2 separate regions of the Homo sapiens genome follow, and region 2 is linked to region 1. Evidence: fine-mapped expression QTL. Tissue or cell type: whole blood. Region 1 holds a variant in brackets; the other region holds the start of a gene. All regions are shown on one strand. Distances are between the middles of the regions.

Evidence for each region. PIP is the estimated chance that this variant, and not a neighbour inherited with it, causes the effect.
Region 2: it holds the start of RNF144B, and the variant in region 1 is fine-mapped to the expression of RNF144B in whole blood (INTERVAL, PIP above 0.99).

What each region holds. Positions count from the first base shown.
Region 1 is chr6:18,520,149-18,528,394 of GRCh38, reverse strand. It overlaps MIR548A1HG (MIR548A1 host gene), which reads right to left and starts at 5,648. Exons shown (of 8, transcript NR_149116.1): 1 at 5,560-5,648. RefSeq lists an enhancer at 168-803. The variant G/A (reference allele first, on the strand shown) is at 4,306.
Region 2 is chr6:18,384,025-18,392,270 of GRCh38, reverse strand. RNF144B (ring finger protein 144B) reads right to left here and starts at 4,921. Exons shown (of 8, transcript NM_182757.4): 1 at 4,641-4,921.

The DNA.
Region 1 (8,246 bases):
CTTATTTTCAGGTGAGAAAACTAGAGGACAGAAAGTGATACAATTAGCCCAAAGTCACAGGGCTACACAGCACAGAGCTGGGATAAGAATCTCACTCTCTAACTCTCAGGTCAGGGTTCTTCCTGACATGTCACATTCCTGAGGCTGCAGCATAGATCCAGTTATCCTTGGATAGCATCACTTGTCTGAGCCAAAACTCTTTGGTTCTAACCACGTAACTGGACAAGTTTCTCTCAGCACGATGAGTCCAGCACATCCTCAATCACAAGTTCAAACCCTTACAACCATGTTGCTGAAAAAAAAACAATGGTTAATGAGGCCATGTTGACAAGCATAGTTCATTATCAGCAAGCTAATGACCACTCAGGCCGCAGCAGGGATGCCAGCCTACAATTAGGTCTGCAGTGATGTACAAACAGAAAGGGACTCTAGTTATAATTAAACCTGATCCTTTAGTCCAATTGCTCATTAGGAAAGAAAATAAAACAATCCACAGATCCCACACAAGAAGGCCTAAAACTAATGCTTTGGTCCGGGGATGAAATGTTAGGCCATTGAGCTATTAGCCCATGTCTGTCTGCTGCTGAATGAGCACTTAAGCTTATATTCTTATTCAAAATACTTTGTAATGAAGGAGGATTGGTTTTCATCTTACTGATTTTGAAAGCCGTGGCACAAAGGATGCTGGATAATTTTTCATTTTCTTCATTTTGCCTATCACGATTGTTCAATCGTTTTTCCTGTGGACCTGTATTACTTGTGCAATTAAATATATTTAAAAAGTACTAAATCTTGCCAAAATCTCTTCAAGTAATGAAAACTAGGCATTAAACATAAGAATACACATAAGCACGAGCCTTTCATAATTAGAAGAAGGAACTACCTCTATAGAAAGGCAACATGATGTTATAAAAATAAAAAAGTCAGCACAGTATATGGGTTCTGAAACCAGAGGACTGGAATTCATGCGACAGCTTTGCTAGTGAACCCTTGGACGGGTATCTAAAATTTTAAAGGAAGGTGTCTGTGATTAAATGAAAGGTCTAGGTAAAGATCCTAGGAGATGTGAAAAAAAAAAAGTGATTCATAAATTACAGGTTCCTTCCTCTTCCCCATATTCCCCTGCATTGCTTTTCTGTCCTCATAATTCCTAAAATATGTCTAAATCTAGAAAGAGATGTCTTACTAAGAAAGACCAATTGAAAGCTTTGAATTGATGAGGAAAGAAGATGTAAGTAGGCCTAAGGAGGGAAAGTAGTAAGAAGAGAGGGAGAAGAGGAGGCAGTATTAACAAGAAAGAAGAGAGAATGGGCTTCATTTGGAGACAAATTCTCTGGAGCCTTGAGAAGAGGTGGGGAGGACATTGGAAGAGTGAAGCTAATGAGATTAGAAAAGGTTTGTTTTCTCCCTTTCTTCCCATTTAGTCCCTTCCTTACCTTTTTGTCTCTTTCAGATTCTTAAATGATGAAGCCCTTTCTTATTCCTGTCCATTTATCCTTCATCTGCAACTTCTTTCTCGTTACTCAGTGCCCTAGCCGTGTGCTTTTGAATCAATCTCGCCAGCACCCTCTGGAAGTGTGTGTCATCAATTATCTTTTCATTACATAACGTTTCTCACACATACCTTCAATCTGCTCTTCTCTACTGGTCTCTTATCTGTCTATCTAAAAGCATTCTTAGGTTTTCTCTGTACTTAAGATTCAATCCCAGGAGCCCTTATATTGCCATGTGCTCCCTGGGTAACAGAAAGGGAAAGCACTGTGAAGAATACATCATTCTTTAAAAAACCAGTTCCTGCGCTCAAGGGGCTTACCAATTAGTTGTGGAGAAAAGACTATGTCATTAGAAACAATGGTGATCAATAAAAGGAGTATATAATTAAGTCCTAAATTGGCTCGTCAGACTCTGAGTCTCTACAGCTTGGGGGATGCACGCCAAGGAGTTCCCCAAGGTGCTATGGTAAGGGATGATTTGGAGGAAGCACCAGGCCAGAATATTGCACAAAGCAATTACTCAATAAATATTTGTGATTTGGTTTGAGACAAAATGTTAGCTAAGCCTTGAAAATCATTATAAGATCGCCACTTCTCCCACCTACTTGACAATTCTCCTTCTTCATTGGTTTTAAGGTGCATATTGTTTCACATCTTAACAATTCTGGAACAAGGATGTATTTTTCAATCAAGGAGACTCAGCATGTGTTACAGACTAATTGCCAGTGCTTTTTCTTTCTTAGTGGTATATAAAATAATGGTACAACTTACAACCGATGGCTTCTTAGATTCCATAAAACACAGTTTTTTTGTGTATCCAGTATATTTCAGGTTGCTATTTTAGGCCCTAGGGATATGTGAATAAGAAATGTAAAGTTTTTCTTTTGTGAAGCTTGCATTGTGATAGAGGAAGACAGATAATAAACAAATTAACAAATATATGATACACTGATGCCAGGTATGGTGACACAGACTGAATAGGAACTAGATTTAGGCCTAGATCCCAATCTACTGTGCAGGAAAATAAAAAATAATGAGAAGTGAAGTTTTTAAAAATCAGATTTCACGTACGAGAAATAGCAATTTGGAAGGAATTTACACATATTTTGGGTATTTCATCTCCTCTGCTAGACAGTGAGCTCCTTGAAAACTTTTTATAAAGGGCAATTTACTTAATTTTACTACAAAAGCTGAAAAATATAGTATGGATTGGACCCTTGATCTCAAGGGTCAGGAAACTTTTTCTGTATAGAGCCAGAGAGTCAATAATTTCAGCTTTGCACATCATATGCTCAATGACACAACTACTCACCTCTGCCATTGTAACACAAAAGCAACATGGATAAATACATAGATAAGCATGGCTGTTTTCCAACAAAATTTGGTTTATAAACACAAGTCGCAGGCTGAATTGGCTCCACATTGCAGTTTCCCAACCCCTGAACTAGGTAGCTATTCCTAAAGGCTCCTAGAACTCTGGAATTCTTTGAGATCTAAGCCTGGAGACCTATTTACCACAGCATATACAAATGATCCTCGACTACAATGGTTTGGCTTACAATTATTTTTCATTTTTAATGGTGCAAAAGCAATACACATTCAATAAATACCATACTTTGAGTACTCATACAGCCATTCTGTTTTTCACTTTCAGTATGTTATTTAATAAATTACACGAGATGTTCAACACTTTATTGTAAAATGGGCTTTGTGTTAGATGATTTGGCCCAGCTGCAGGCTAACATAAGTGTTCTGAGTATGTTGAAAGTCAGCTAGGCTAAGCTATGACATTTGATAAACCTATAGGTGTATTAAATGCATTTTTCCTTATAATAGTTTCAATTTGCAATGGGTTTATTGAGATGTAACCCCTCGAAGGCAAGGAGCATCTGTACAACATCCACAAGATTCCCCAGATTGTTAGTAAGGCCACAGAAACAAACCAAGAAAAGGGGAGCAGCAATGTTTCTGGGGTATCATATGTGGAGATGAACCCATTTACAAAGGTTTGCTCAAAAACCAAAAATTTCAACTCATCCCAACATACATGGCCTTCCAGATAGATTCAGGGAATCCTGCACTAAAAAGAACAGGTCTTTTTACAGCCACAGATAGGAGGTCAGCAGGTGATTAGTGAGGTCTGCATGCTCAGACCTGGCTTGTTGCACTGCGGTCAATTACACAGCTGGTTACAAGTGTGTGTTTGCACCTGTTCAAGCCTTCAAATGTGCTAATCCTATATTAATTAAGCAACTTCTTAGAAGCAGGTTAAAAACAAATTAGACCCTGCCATCCCATGCCTGTTCCAGCCTTCCCTTGGTAGCCCTTCATCTATAAGGGATCATCTACAGAGGGTAAGGAGCAATGTTTCTTCGTAATTCGGGAGGGGCTCATTATGCCCCATCAATTAGTGCTGCCACCACTTAGTGAAAACAGTTGTTGGTACATAGCCCATATTAGTGACTAATTAATAAGGGTTGATTAGCTAAGCCCCCTCACAAGGTATAACAGGCAACAGCCACCTTCCACAAGGACTACGGATTAAAACAGAGATATCAACAATGTAAAATGAAAGAAATTTTGCTGGTGACCCTCATCTTTTTTTTTTTTGCTTGGAGACGGAGTCTCACTCTTTTTCACCCAGGCCGGAGTGCAGTGGCGCTGTCTGCAAACTCCGCCTGCCGGTTCACGCCATTCTCCTGCCTCAGCCTCCCGAGTAGCTTGGACTATAGGCGCCCGGCTAATTTTTTGTATTTTTAGTAGAAATGGGGTTTCACCGTGTTAGCCAGGATGGTCTCGATCTCCTGACCTC[G/A]TGATCCGCCTGCCTCGGCCTCCCAAAGTGCTGGGATTACAGGCTTGAGCCACCGCGCCCGGCTACCCTCATCTTTCTGAATGGGTTAAGAGACAGCACAGTCCATAGCTAACCAGTACACCTTATGATTTCAATACATTGAAATGATTTCAGTTGCCAAGGATGTCTGGCTTGTTATTCTTTGAATCATTGATAAAGGGAGGAAAGTAGTACCATAGCAGATTAATGTGGGAGCTTATCTCAGGGAGGTAGAAAAATCGACCCTGTACATGTAGGATGCACACCATACTGCAAAACATAGGACATGAATGTGTATCTATTTAGATATCCCTGTTGATATTTTCAAATGTTATTTTTATTAGGAGCATGGAATAGTGGGTAAAAACAAGAGACTCAGATTAGTGATTTGACTAATTATGGATCAAGCAAAATGTTCATGTTTCTGTATATCAGTTATTGTGTTATATCATAATTACCTGTTGTGTATCTCCCTCATTCACACACACACACACGCACACATAGACACAAATTTTGATCACGGGTTCTTTGAAGTTAGGGGTCAAATCTCATTTATCTTCATATTCCATAGAAGAGAGCATTTTAGAAACTTCTTAGCCATTTGATGAATAGATTAAGGAATGAATGCTTTAACTTCTGATTACTGGCTAATATTTGTATCTTTAGTAGAGATGGGGTTTCATCATATTGGTCAGGCTGGTCTTGAACTCCTGAACTTGTGATCCACCCACCTCAGCCTCCCAAAGGGCTGGGATTACAGATTACAGGCGTGAGCCACCACACTCGGCAGCTGATTCCATCTTTTTTTTTTTTTTTTTTTTTTTTAGACGGAGTTTCACTCTTGTTGCTCAGGCTGGAATGCAATGGCACAATCTAGGCTCACTGCAACCTCTGCCTCCCAGGTGCAAGCAATTCTCCTGCCTCAGCCTCCTGAGTAGCTGGGATTACAGGCATCCGCCCGCACGCCCGGCTAATTTCGTATTTTTAGTAGAGACGGGCTTTCTCCATGTTGGTCAGGCTGGTCTTGAACTCCCGACCTCAGGTGATTCGCCCGCTTCGGCCTCCCAAAGTGCTGGGATTACAGGCTGAGCCACTGCGCCCCGCCTGATTCCATCTTTTACTCATGGCATCATTCCTTGCTACTCTTAACAGGTGTATTACTCCATTTTCATGCTGCTGATAAAGACATACCCAACTCTGGATAATTTATACAGGAAAAAGGTTTAATGGACTTACAGTTCGACGTGGCTGGGAGGCCTCAGAATCATGGCAGAAGGCGAAGAGGAGCAAGTCACATTCTACGTGGATGGCGGCAGGCAAAGAAACGGTTTGTGTAGGGAAACTCCCGTGTTTAAAACCGTCAGATCTCGTGAGACTTATCCACTAGCACGAGAACAGCACGGGAAAGACCCACCCCCCGTGTTTTAATTACCTCCCACCAGGTTCCTCCCACGACACGTGGGAATTGTTGGAATTAAAATTCAAAATGAGATTTGGGTGGGGACACAGCCAAACCATATCAACAGGTTTCCTTGGGATAAGTCTGATGCGTTTAGCATATCAAAGCTATCACTGTTCTCCAGTTTACCAAAATACCTCTTTCCAAACACGATGGAGAAAGAAGAAAAATGAGTGAAAAAGAGAAAAAAACCTCTAACCTACTCCCTAAGAATGTTCATCGTGGCACCATTTAAAATAGAGACTGCAAATAAACCTAAGGATGGTTAAATATAGTATGATACATTCTACATGTCATATGAAATCATTAAATTAATGTTTTAAAAGACTAAGAGTATTTAATGACATAGAAAGTGTTCCACTGAGATATCGTTAGAAATAAAAGGCACAATCCCTGCAGGATAATATAAAATAATATGTATCATGTGCATCTCTAAAAGGCCAGAGGTATAAGATTCAAAATATTTTAAAAGGCTCTCTCTGGTGACAGAATTGGGTGATGTTTATCTTCTCCTTTGTGTTTTTCTGGAAGATCCAAAGTTTTACAACATGTGCTACATTATAGTCAAAGGAAAAAAGTCCATATGAAAAAAAGAAAAGGTTTTGCTTTTATATATCTTTATACGACATCATAAAAACCATGCAATCTCATCAGTCAGGCTGAACTCCAGCAGCTACTAAAACCAGTTTAATTAATGATTCTCACATAAATTAAGTGAACTTACATTACCAGATAATAAAACATATTATGACACTACAATAACGTAGTACACACATAAAAATTGATGGTAGAAACAAATAGCCCAGAAATGGATCCTAATATATATCTACTCAAAAAGAACTTAGTATATGATAAAGGTGAGATGACTAATCATTCAAGAGGAGGAAGGATTATTTCATAAATAGTGTTAAAATAGAGAGTTAACTGTTTCAGTGAGAAGATAAATCACTGCCTTACAAGATACAATAATGTACATTTTGGATGGATTTAATTATTAAGTGTAAAAACTACACTCAGGAGACCCAGAAGAAATAATAAATATGTGAATTTATAATCTAGAATTTCAAATATCTTTCTAATCAATGATAAAGGAAAAAATAAACCAGAAAGAGAGGGAGACCAATTTTCCTACACTTTTGTATATCACTTACTCACATCAAAAACCACCATAAAAGGCCTGGCGCAGTGGCTCACGTCTGTAATCCCAGCAACTTGGGAGGCCAAGGCAGGCGAATCACCTGAGGTCAGCAGTGATTCCTGCTGAAACCCCGTCTCTACTAAAAATACAAAAATTAGCCGGATGTGGTGGCACACGCCTGAAACCCCAGCTACTCCAGAGGCTGAGGCACGAGAATCACTTGAACCCAGGCAGCAGAGGTTGCAGTGAGCCGAGATTGTGCCACTGCACTCCAGTCTGGGCAACAGACTGAGACTCTGTCCTCAAAAGAAAAAAAAAACTTTATGTTCCATTAGGGCAGGGGCTGTCTCTCTCTCATTTGCTGCTGAATGTTACACCTTCTGCAGTGCTTCACACATAGTGGGCAATCAATAAGTATTGATCAAATAAAAGAATGATCATTTACAAAAGAGTAAATAGAAATGACCATTAACACAGTTATGTTTTAAAAGTCCCACATGACTGGTAATCAAAGAAATGAAAGATGAAGCAGAGATAACACTTTATTCCCTCAACTTGGCATGTATGTCTTTTAAAATAATACTCACTGCTGTCAGGTATATGATGAAATGAGTACTCTCACTCACTGCTACTAGGAATCTGTTAGGTCAAAATTTGTCAAAATGTGCAAAAATCTCAAAAGTGTTTTGATCCTTCAGCAATATTTTCATTTCTGAGAATTTATTATGGAAAAATAATCTAAATAAACACAAAAATATCAATCTCCGCAATCCTGGTAATGCTGTAAATTGGAAACAACCTAATTGTTAAATACAGGGAATTGATTAAATAATTATATACATATGAAATAATGTTATAAAATATTAATATTTGTGATTTTGAATATTTAAGTATATGGAAAATTGTATGTTATAAAACAAGTTTAAGGATAAATCTATACGTATATATTGATTCCCATATTTTAGAAAATATATGGATATCTATACGTTAAAAAAAATAATATGTAGTCCAGGCGCAATGGCTCCTGCCTGTAATCCCAGCACTTTAGGAAGCTGAGGCAGTTGGATCACCTGAAGTCAGGAGTTCGTGACCAGCCTGGCCAACATGGTGAAACCCTGTCTCTGTTAAAACTACAAAAATTAGCCAGATGTGGTGGCACATGCCTGTAATCCCAGCTACTCCGGAGGCTGAGGCACGAGAATCGCTTAAACCCAGGAAGCAGAGTTTGCTAGTGAGCTGAGATCTCGTCACTGTACTCCAGCCTGAGCAACAGAGTGAGACTCTATCTCAAAAAAAAAATAAAAATAAAAATAAAGTGCATATTTT
Region 2 (8,246 bases), 140 kb after region 1:
GTTGTGATAAGCTAACTCCAAATCCTACAGAGGACAGAACATCTGGCACATCGTTTTTTTTTTGAGACGGAGTCTCGCTCTGTCGCCCAGGCTGCAGTGCAGTGGTGCTATCTCAGCTTGCTGCAAGCTCTGCCTCCTGGGTTCACGCCATTCTCCTGCCTCAGCCTCCCAAGTAGCTGGGACTACAGGCACCTGCCACCACACCTAATTTTTTTTTTTTTTTTTTTTTTTTTTTAGTAGAGATGGGGTTTCACCATGTTAGCCAGGATGGTCTCGATCTCCTGACCTCCGTGATCCTCCCGCGTCGGCCTCCCAAAGTGCTGGGATTACAGGCGTAAGTCACCGCGCCTGGCCCTTGGCACATCTAGTTTTAACATTTGCAAACTGCTGCTCCTTTTTTTTTGAGATGGAGTCTGGCTCTGTCCCCCAGGCTGGAGTGCAGTGGCCCGATCTCGGCTCACTGCAAGCTCCGCCTCCTGGGTTCACGCCATCCTCCTGCCTCAGCCTCCCGAGTAGCTGGGACTACAGGCGCCCACCACCACGCTTGGCTAATTTTTTTGTATTTTTAGTAGAGATGTGGTTTCACCGTGTTTGCCAGGATGGTCTCGATCTCCTGACCTCGTGATCAGCCCACCTCAGCCTCCCAAAGTGCTGGGATTACAGGCATGAGCCACCGCAACTGGCTTTTTCTTAAAAGCACATTTCTTCTTGCCTTCTTTCCATGTTCTCATTACCCTACAGGGTAAGGCCCAAGAGGTAGAAATCCATTCCCAGTTTTCCAAACAATATAAACTTATCAAAGAAGGTGGGAGTGAATATGAGAATAACAGCTCAATGATATTTTTGGCATGGCAATTTTGCATTCATCATGGTAGCTACCTCTTCAATATCACCACTGTGCCTTGCCCACTCCTGTTTTAATCAGTGGTTCCCTGCCTCCCACAATTATTCACACAGCCCTGCTAAATAATTTTCTTCCCTATGCCTGGCATAACAACAAAGCTCAGAAGCAGGAAGGAACGCCACTTAAAGGCAGGTCAGACAATGATGTAATTGACCAATCAAGGAGAAGTGGTATTTCAAAGAGCCTTATAGAGCAAGAGCCAGGCTGATTTCTTGGGTCAGGACATTACCAGAAAACCAGAGCCGCTAAAGCACGAATATCTAAATCAAAAATTTTTTTTCAAATGAATAAAAGCATGTGCCAATATTACCCCCTCCTGTTAAAGTTAAAAGTTTCATATAGAAATTTTAATTAGAAACAAATTGGAAACCAGTTTGGAAGAGGAATCTTCACCCCACCTGAGCAAAGTGCAGGTGTAGATTTTTGTATGTCTTTGCCAATTAATTTCCTATAACAGGAATTTATCATGAAGGAAACAAAGTCAACACACAAAGAACAAATTCTACACATTAGGTGCTAGGGATGTAAAGGTGATTAAACCCAGCTCCTACTTATTAAGAGTCAACTAGTTGAGGAGGTTTTCAACAGAGGATTTCATATAATCATATGCAGGAGAATGTGTGGGTTTATGGTTTCAGCCACAAGTTCAACAGACAGAAACGAGTTGTCTTGTTTTATCTTCCCAAGAAAAACAAAGAACAAGTTGATGAAGGGCTGGGACTCAAACTCGTGACTTCAAAAGATTTAGAAAACAATGGGACATGGCTTTCAAAGTATGCTCTTAATAAATACTCCAAGCCATGTGATCAGAAGTATCTCCAGCTATGAATAAGAAAAGTCTATTTCACTTAGATTGCTGTGTTTTGAATTCAAGAAAGAGATCTGCTCATAGATGAGAAGATCCTCATTCCACGTTGCAGAAGCATTGGTCATTTTTACTCATTTAATATATAGTTATCCATTTTTTAATAACAACTATGGTATGATGCATTAGGTTCCAAAGTACTCACCGACTGGGTAAATAGCAAATGCCAAAGTTAATAAAACTAAAACTTTAGTCCAAGACCTCCCACATACACCTAAAGGTAAAAATTATGAATTAAAATATTTACATAAATTAACTTAGGTGTCATATACCTCTTAATGGTCAAATGGTCAAGGTAACACTACCAAGAAAATTAAGATGATCGAGGTGACAAACATCGAAGTACTTTTTATAATCTGGCAAAGCAATGTGAATTCAGAACTACCACTCTAGACCCAAGTCACTTCTGACCTTATGAGAATTTCTTCCGGACAGAGACCACATCTTAGCCATCTTTATATCCCAGCATCTAACCTAGCACCTAGCAAATCAGTCACTCAGTAGTAGAGTGGATAACTTTTCTGATTGTACTTGGAGGAGAGAAAATATTAAAGGCCTGGTTCTCATCTGTATTCACTTCCAGAAATTCACAAGCTGAAAATATTGACCATTTGTTTCAGGTAAGGAGCTTCTATAAATTAAGGTAGGCACCCCTGAAAGAAATGTTTCAGTACTTAGGAGCAATGGCTACAGATACCTATTCCCCAAAGTCCAAGTGAAAAGCATGACTTGTCTGGCAGCTTGGCCCTTTTCCCACATCCAAAATAATCAGTTGTACAAAGTAGGCTTAGTCCCAAAACTGCTCAGACTTTGTTCCTTCAGTAACATCTGGGTTCAGCATGATTCCTGACCTCTATCTCAAACTGGAGATTTCAAACACTAAAAACTTCACTCTCCAAGAAAGTAATGTCATAAAGTCAAGGCCAGGGGAAACAAAGAAGCCAGGATTAGCAGAAACACTTCGGAGAAAGGATTCTGACATACATATAAATGTTTCTAAACGTCTAAAATATTGAAATGACTTTTCAAGAAGGAAATTTTAAGTGCACCTCCTCAGATGAAAAATATTCATACTACTGAGGAGAAAGACGTTTTTCAGGAAGTTAAATGGTCATACCAGGTAGATAAAATAAGCTTTTTCTTTCCAGAGAGAGCATACTCTTCTCTCTGCTGTAGAGTTTGGCTCCAAAAACCTGGTTCATAATCTGAGACCCAAAAACTGATTATTTTAAAAAGACATGTCTTAAGCTGACCTAGTTTGGAAGCCTGAATGCCTTTAAATTGCCAATGAACTGAAACCATTCATGAGAATGGGCCTTTTGAATGCTGAGAATGTTCTTTGGGACTCAGCACAAAGATATTTGGCATAGATGACTGTAAATATTTGTAAAACTCTGGGTAAATGGGCAGGATTTGACCACACTCAAGCCCGACTTCCAGCACAGTAGTGTAGGAGAAAGTTATCTAGGGTGATTGTTTGGGGTTTTGGGGGGTTTTTTTGGTTGAGTTTTGTTTGTTTTAAATAAAAAGCCAAGCAACCCAATTCTACTACTCAACATCTTTTTCACGTTCACTATATATGTTTACCTTTTTTTAATCAAGATAATTAATTAGTCAGAGACTACTTTTGAAACTGAGGTTTTTCCCTTTCCCACTTTTCTAAGTTTATGCCCACGACAAAAATAAAAAAAAAAATGCCAGTCAAAGGTGTGCAAGGGCAGAGCAGGAGTTGTGTGAAACCATGACCTTGGATTTCATAATACAATTATCTACAAGTGGCTTTGTGGATCTGCTATAGGTTTTTCTCCCCCTCAGGATAGTTTTAGAAGTATTTAAGGCACTGCTGTCCATGAAAAGGACCCAGGTTGTGAAGGAAAGATAAACTAAGGAGAAGGAGGGACTCACAGAGGGATTTGATGTGAAAGGGACCAAGAGGCTCATTTCAGTGAAAGCTGCGGCAGACAGATACTCTAATTAGCCAGCAACTCAGTTAGGACTGGCTAGGTTCCTTTTGCCTCTTACCCACACCCTAAAAACTGAGTCATCCCAAAGTTCATTTATTTTGCTTCTGGGCACAGACACCCCCTAATCTGCTTCCTCAGAAATGTTAGATACATTGCCATTTAATTTATACCTCTCAATGTTCAAATAAACGTCCAGAAATGCCAAATCGGAAGAGCAGAGATAGTCCTGTTAAGAACCTCAGAGCTAATGTTTTGATAAGATACATGTGGCAGAAAGCAATATGAAACTGACAGTCTGTTATGAGAACATGAAAAAAGAACATTTCCCAGAGAAGGGAATTAATTTCTGGGAAATCTTTATGTGAATAGTGTATATGCATGAGGAGTAGACTTACAGCAGGATCCTTGAAACTCATGAGAAAAACAAAAGGTGTTTTAGAAAGAATAAGCAAAAGATACCTACCTTTTCCCTGCACAAACGACAATCAGTTCGATTTTAACTTAAATTTGAGAATGGCTCTCGTAGTATCAGAGTTTCACTGTTTCATTAGCAATTACCTGATAAAATAAGCACTATAATGCATAATCCGAGATTATGCCAACTTTTGGTCTCCCCTTAAGACCTAGGGAGAGGTCTGGTCTAATCTCGGATTCTACAATACATTCTATTATAGAAACTGTTTTATTAGAAATGAAACTACTTTCCTTTAACAAAGGCATTTTTCTTCTAAGTTAACAGGTGTTTAAGGCATTCAGAATGAATTCAGTTCTGTATGGTTTGAGCACTAGAGACAGAAAATCGAAAAATTGTGGTGTCACAGTGAGTTTCCTGTCCTTTTTCCTTAGTCCAGCAACACCATTCCGGTCTTGCAACGCCTGTAGCCTTTAAAAAGCTCGCTAAACCTACCTGGCAGCAGACCTGCGTTCCTCCGTCGCCGGGCTTCTCAGTAGCCTCCCTCGCGCTCACCGCCAGTCCGGGCTGCTGGCACACCGGACAGGAGCTCTTCCATTCTCTCCGTCTTTCCTCCGTGCTCTGCGGCTGACAGCTTTACACTTTGCAAGACTGCAACAGGACTTGCGCTCCCAGACCTACGGGTCGGGAGGAGGCGGAGTCCCCGACCGCCTCCTAGCCTTGACTGGCAGCTGCGATGCCCGGGACTGTTGCAGCGGGAGCGTGGGGCACAGCTCGCCAGCAGCGGTAGCAGCGCGTTTATTTATACAGGAAGCTCAGGCGCCGCACTTCCTACTTCCCATGTGGGTCGTACTTCAGCTGCAGGTGTTGGCCTTAACCCTATCCGAACCCGGGCGCGCTGCACCGACTCTACTGCTTGTCAGGACCTGTCTCTTGTTCTCCTGGGACCGCTGTTGCAGGAATTCAGAGCAGGGGGTGCAGGCAGCTGCCCCTAGCGCACTTCTTCTGCCCAGACAGGGACAGCTCACCTCTTGGCCTTAAGCGCCTGCTACCTCTCTGTCTGTACATATCCTCACAGGCCACCTTTCTTTATTTTCTCCCTCCTTCCCAGCTCTTTAAATCTCTTTCTTCTACTTCTAACAGCCCAGACCTGCCTTCCCACGTGGCAGACAACTGTTTTATAGAAACACTTCCCATGCACATCTCATCAAAAAACAGCTTGTACCTCACTTGTCCTTTTGCATCTAATGATGAAATTAGAATACCTGTGAATCAAATCGGGAATAATCTTAGTTTACCTCATAAAATACAGACACTTCTTGATGAAACAATGATTTCACTTGAAGTGCTTTGTAACTTAACTGGTTGTACCCTCAATTAAACAAAAATGTAACAAAATAATCCAGAAGCTGTGAGGTATTATGAAGTGCTTCCTTGCTCCAAACCCTTGGACACTTCATTTGTGTGACATTCATAATGAATCGCATACCTACTCATTCCCCATATCCCCCATAGATCACAATCACCTAAGTCTGCTGAACATTGCCATTTAGGAATGTCGCTCTGACACAAGAATCTGTGTTCACTCTGCAATCCCTCTCTACTTTTGCAACCACTGTCAGGAATGTGCTTCCTAAAAGGAAGGGACTCACAGGCCCTTTGTGGAAAGGATCTGTGCACGCCAACAGGCACCATTCCAAACGACACAAGCAAACATTGCTTCTCAGCCCTCCAAGTTGAAGAAAACCTCTAGGTCAAAGCAAAGTGCTGAATAACACAGTGTATCTACATGTGCCATGCTAGGGCAGGTAGGAGGACCAGCTCACCAGTCAGGGAGGAAGAGAAAAAGGACAGGGGCAATAAGATGATAAAAGAACCCACGGTAGGATATTTGAGCTTGAAAAGTCTTCCTAGCTATTTTAGCAAATAACCTGATTTTAAAAATAAGGAAACTGGGCTGGGTGCGGTGGCTCACATCTGTAATCCCAACACTTTGAGAGGCCAAGGCGGGCAGATCATCTGGGGTCAGGAGTTCAAGACCAGCCTGGCCAACATGGTGAAACCCCGTCTCTACTAAAAATACAAAAAATTAGCTGGGCGTGGTGGTGGGTGCCTATAATCTCAGCTACTCGAGAGGCTGAGGCAGGTGAATCGCTTGAACCTGGGAGGCAGAGGCTGCAGTGAGCCGAGATTGCGCCATTGCACTCCAGCCTGGGTAACAAGAGCGAAACTCTGTCTCAAAAAAAAAAAAAAAATAAGGAAACTGATGTCCAGGAAGATTTAAGAGATTGGCCCAAACCAGACACAGGCCAAGCTAGAATGAGACCTAAATCTGAGTTACATGAGGAAGGTGAATGTAAATGAAAACCATCCCAAAGGAAGTCCAACCTTCAGATTTAGCAATGGCTTAGGTTCTGAGATAATCTATTTCAAGGAATTTTCTTGGTATAGTGACCATTTTGGTGGACAGGAACTAGGAAAGATAAAAAGCAACCTCTAAGAGGTTAGTTTATTCATTGGTGTTGATGCAAATCTCCTGAGCCTTAAACCAAAGTTCAACACAGAGTCCACTTTTCAAATTACCATTCATAAATTATAATCTCTTGTTAACAGGATAAGGGAAGAAGCTGCTGCCAATATGAATGAGAACATAAGCACGAATAGTGCTGCCTATTATCCCAAATATTTTGCACAACTGAGTAACATCACCACTGATTATTTTCAACCATGCAACTATGCAAATTTTTTTTAAATTGCAGTCAAAATTTAATAAGACTAAATAAACACGTTGAATGCTATAATATTATGTGAACAAACTCTCTCAGATCTTCCTAAGGAGTCTACAGTGTGAATGGATATTCATTCTCTGGAGCATTTATTGATTTCCTCCCAGACAATCTGCTAGGTTGTATTAAGATAATGATATTAGACATGGTCTCCCTGTCCTCAAAGACCTCTCAATCCAGGGAAGGAGTAAGACAAGCAAATCAATTATCAGGGTACTGATAGTTGTACCCAATGTGTGAGTGATACATAATGTGTGATATGATAGACTTAAGCATGATGTGCTATTGGGAGCACAGAGAAGAAGAATTTAAAGGAAAGGAGTTGATGAAAAGAATCAAGTCTTCTCTGAGAAGGTGATTATATTAATCTGTTCTCACATTGCTATAAAGAAATAACTGAAACTGGGTAATTTATAAAGAAAAGAAGTTCAATTGGCTCATGGTTCTGCAGCTGCACAGGAAGCATGGCTGGGGAGCCCTCAGGGAGGTTACAATCATGGTAGAAGGTGAAGGGGAAGCAGGCACGCATGTCTTACGTGACTGGAACAGAAGCAAGGCGGGGTGGGGCAGGGAAATGCCACACATGTTTAAACAACTAGGTCTCTCAAGAACTTATTGTCACAAAAAACAGCACCAGGAGATAGTGCTAAACCATTTATGAGAACTCTGTCCCTATGGTCCAATTACCTCCCACCAGGCCCCACCTCCAACATCGGGGATTACAATTCGACCACGAGATTTGGCTGGGGACACAGATCCAAACCATATCAGTGATTTAAATCTATGTCTTCAAGTAGCCCAATAGGTGTGGTAGAGAAGGGTAAACCAGGCTGAGCAAACAGCTAAAACAAAGGGTTAGACATGAGACTCTAGGTGAAATTTTTCATAATTCAGACAGAGCTGATACATCCAGAATAAATGAATGAGGGTCTGAGCTAATGCAGTGACAACTGCCATGCAAAGGAAGGGAACCAATGGAGAGAGATTTCAGAAACAGAAGTGATGGAACTTGGTATCTGATTGGATGTTATATTAGTCCATTCTCACATTGCTATAAAGAAATACCTGAAACTGGGTAACTTATAAAGAAAAGAGATTTAATTGGCTCACAGTACTGCAGGCTTTATAGGCTTTAAGCATGATGCTGGCATCTGTTTGGCCCTCTGGAGAGGCCTGTCACATGGTCAAAGTAGGTGCAAGAGAGCGTTTCGGGGGGAGGGGGGAGGGAGGCGGTGCTACACACCTTTAAACGACCAGCTCTCACAAGAACTCACTATCCCCAGGACAGTACCTAGGGAGATGGTGCTAAACCATT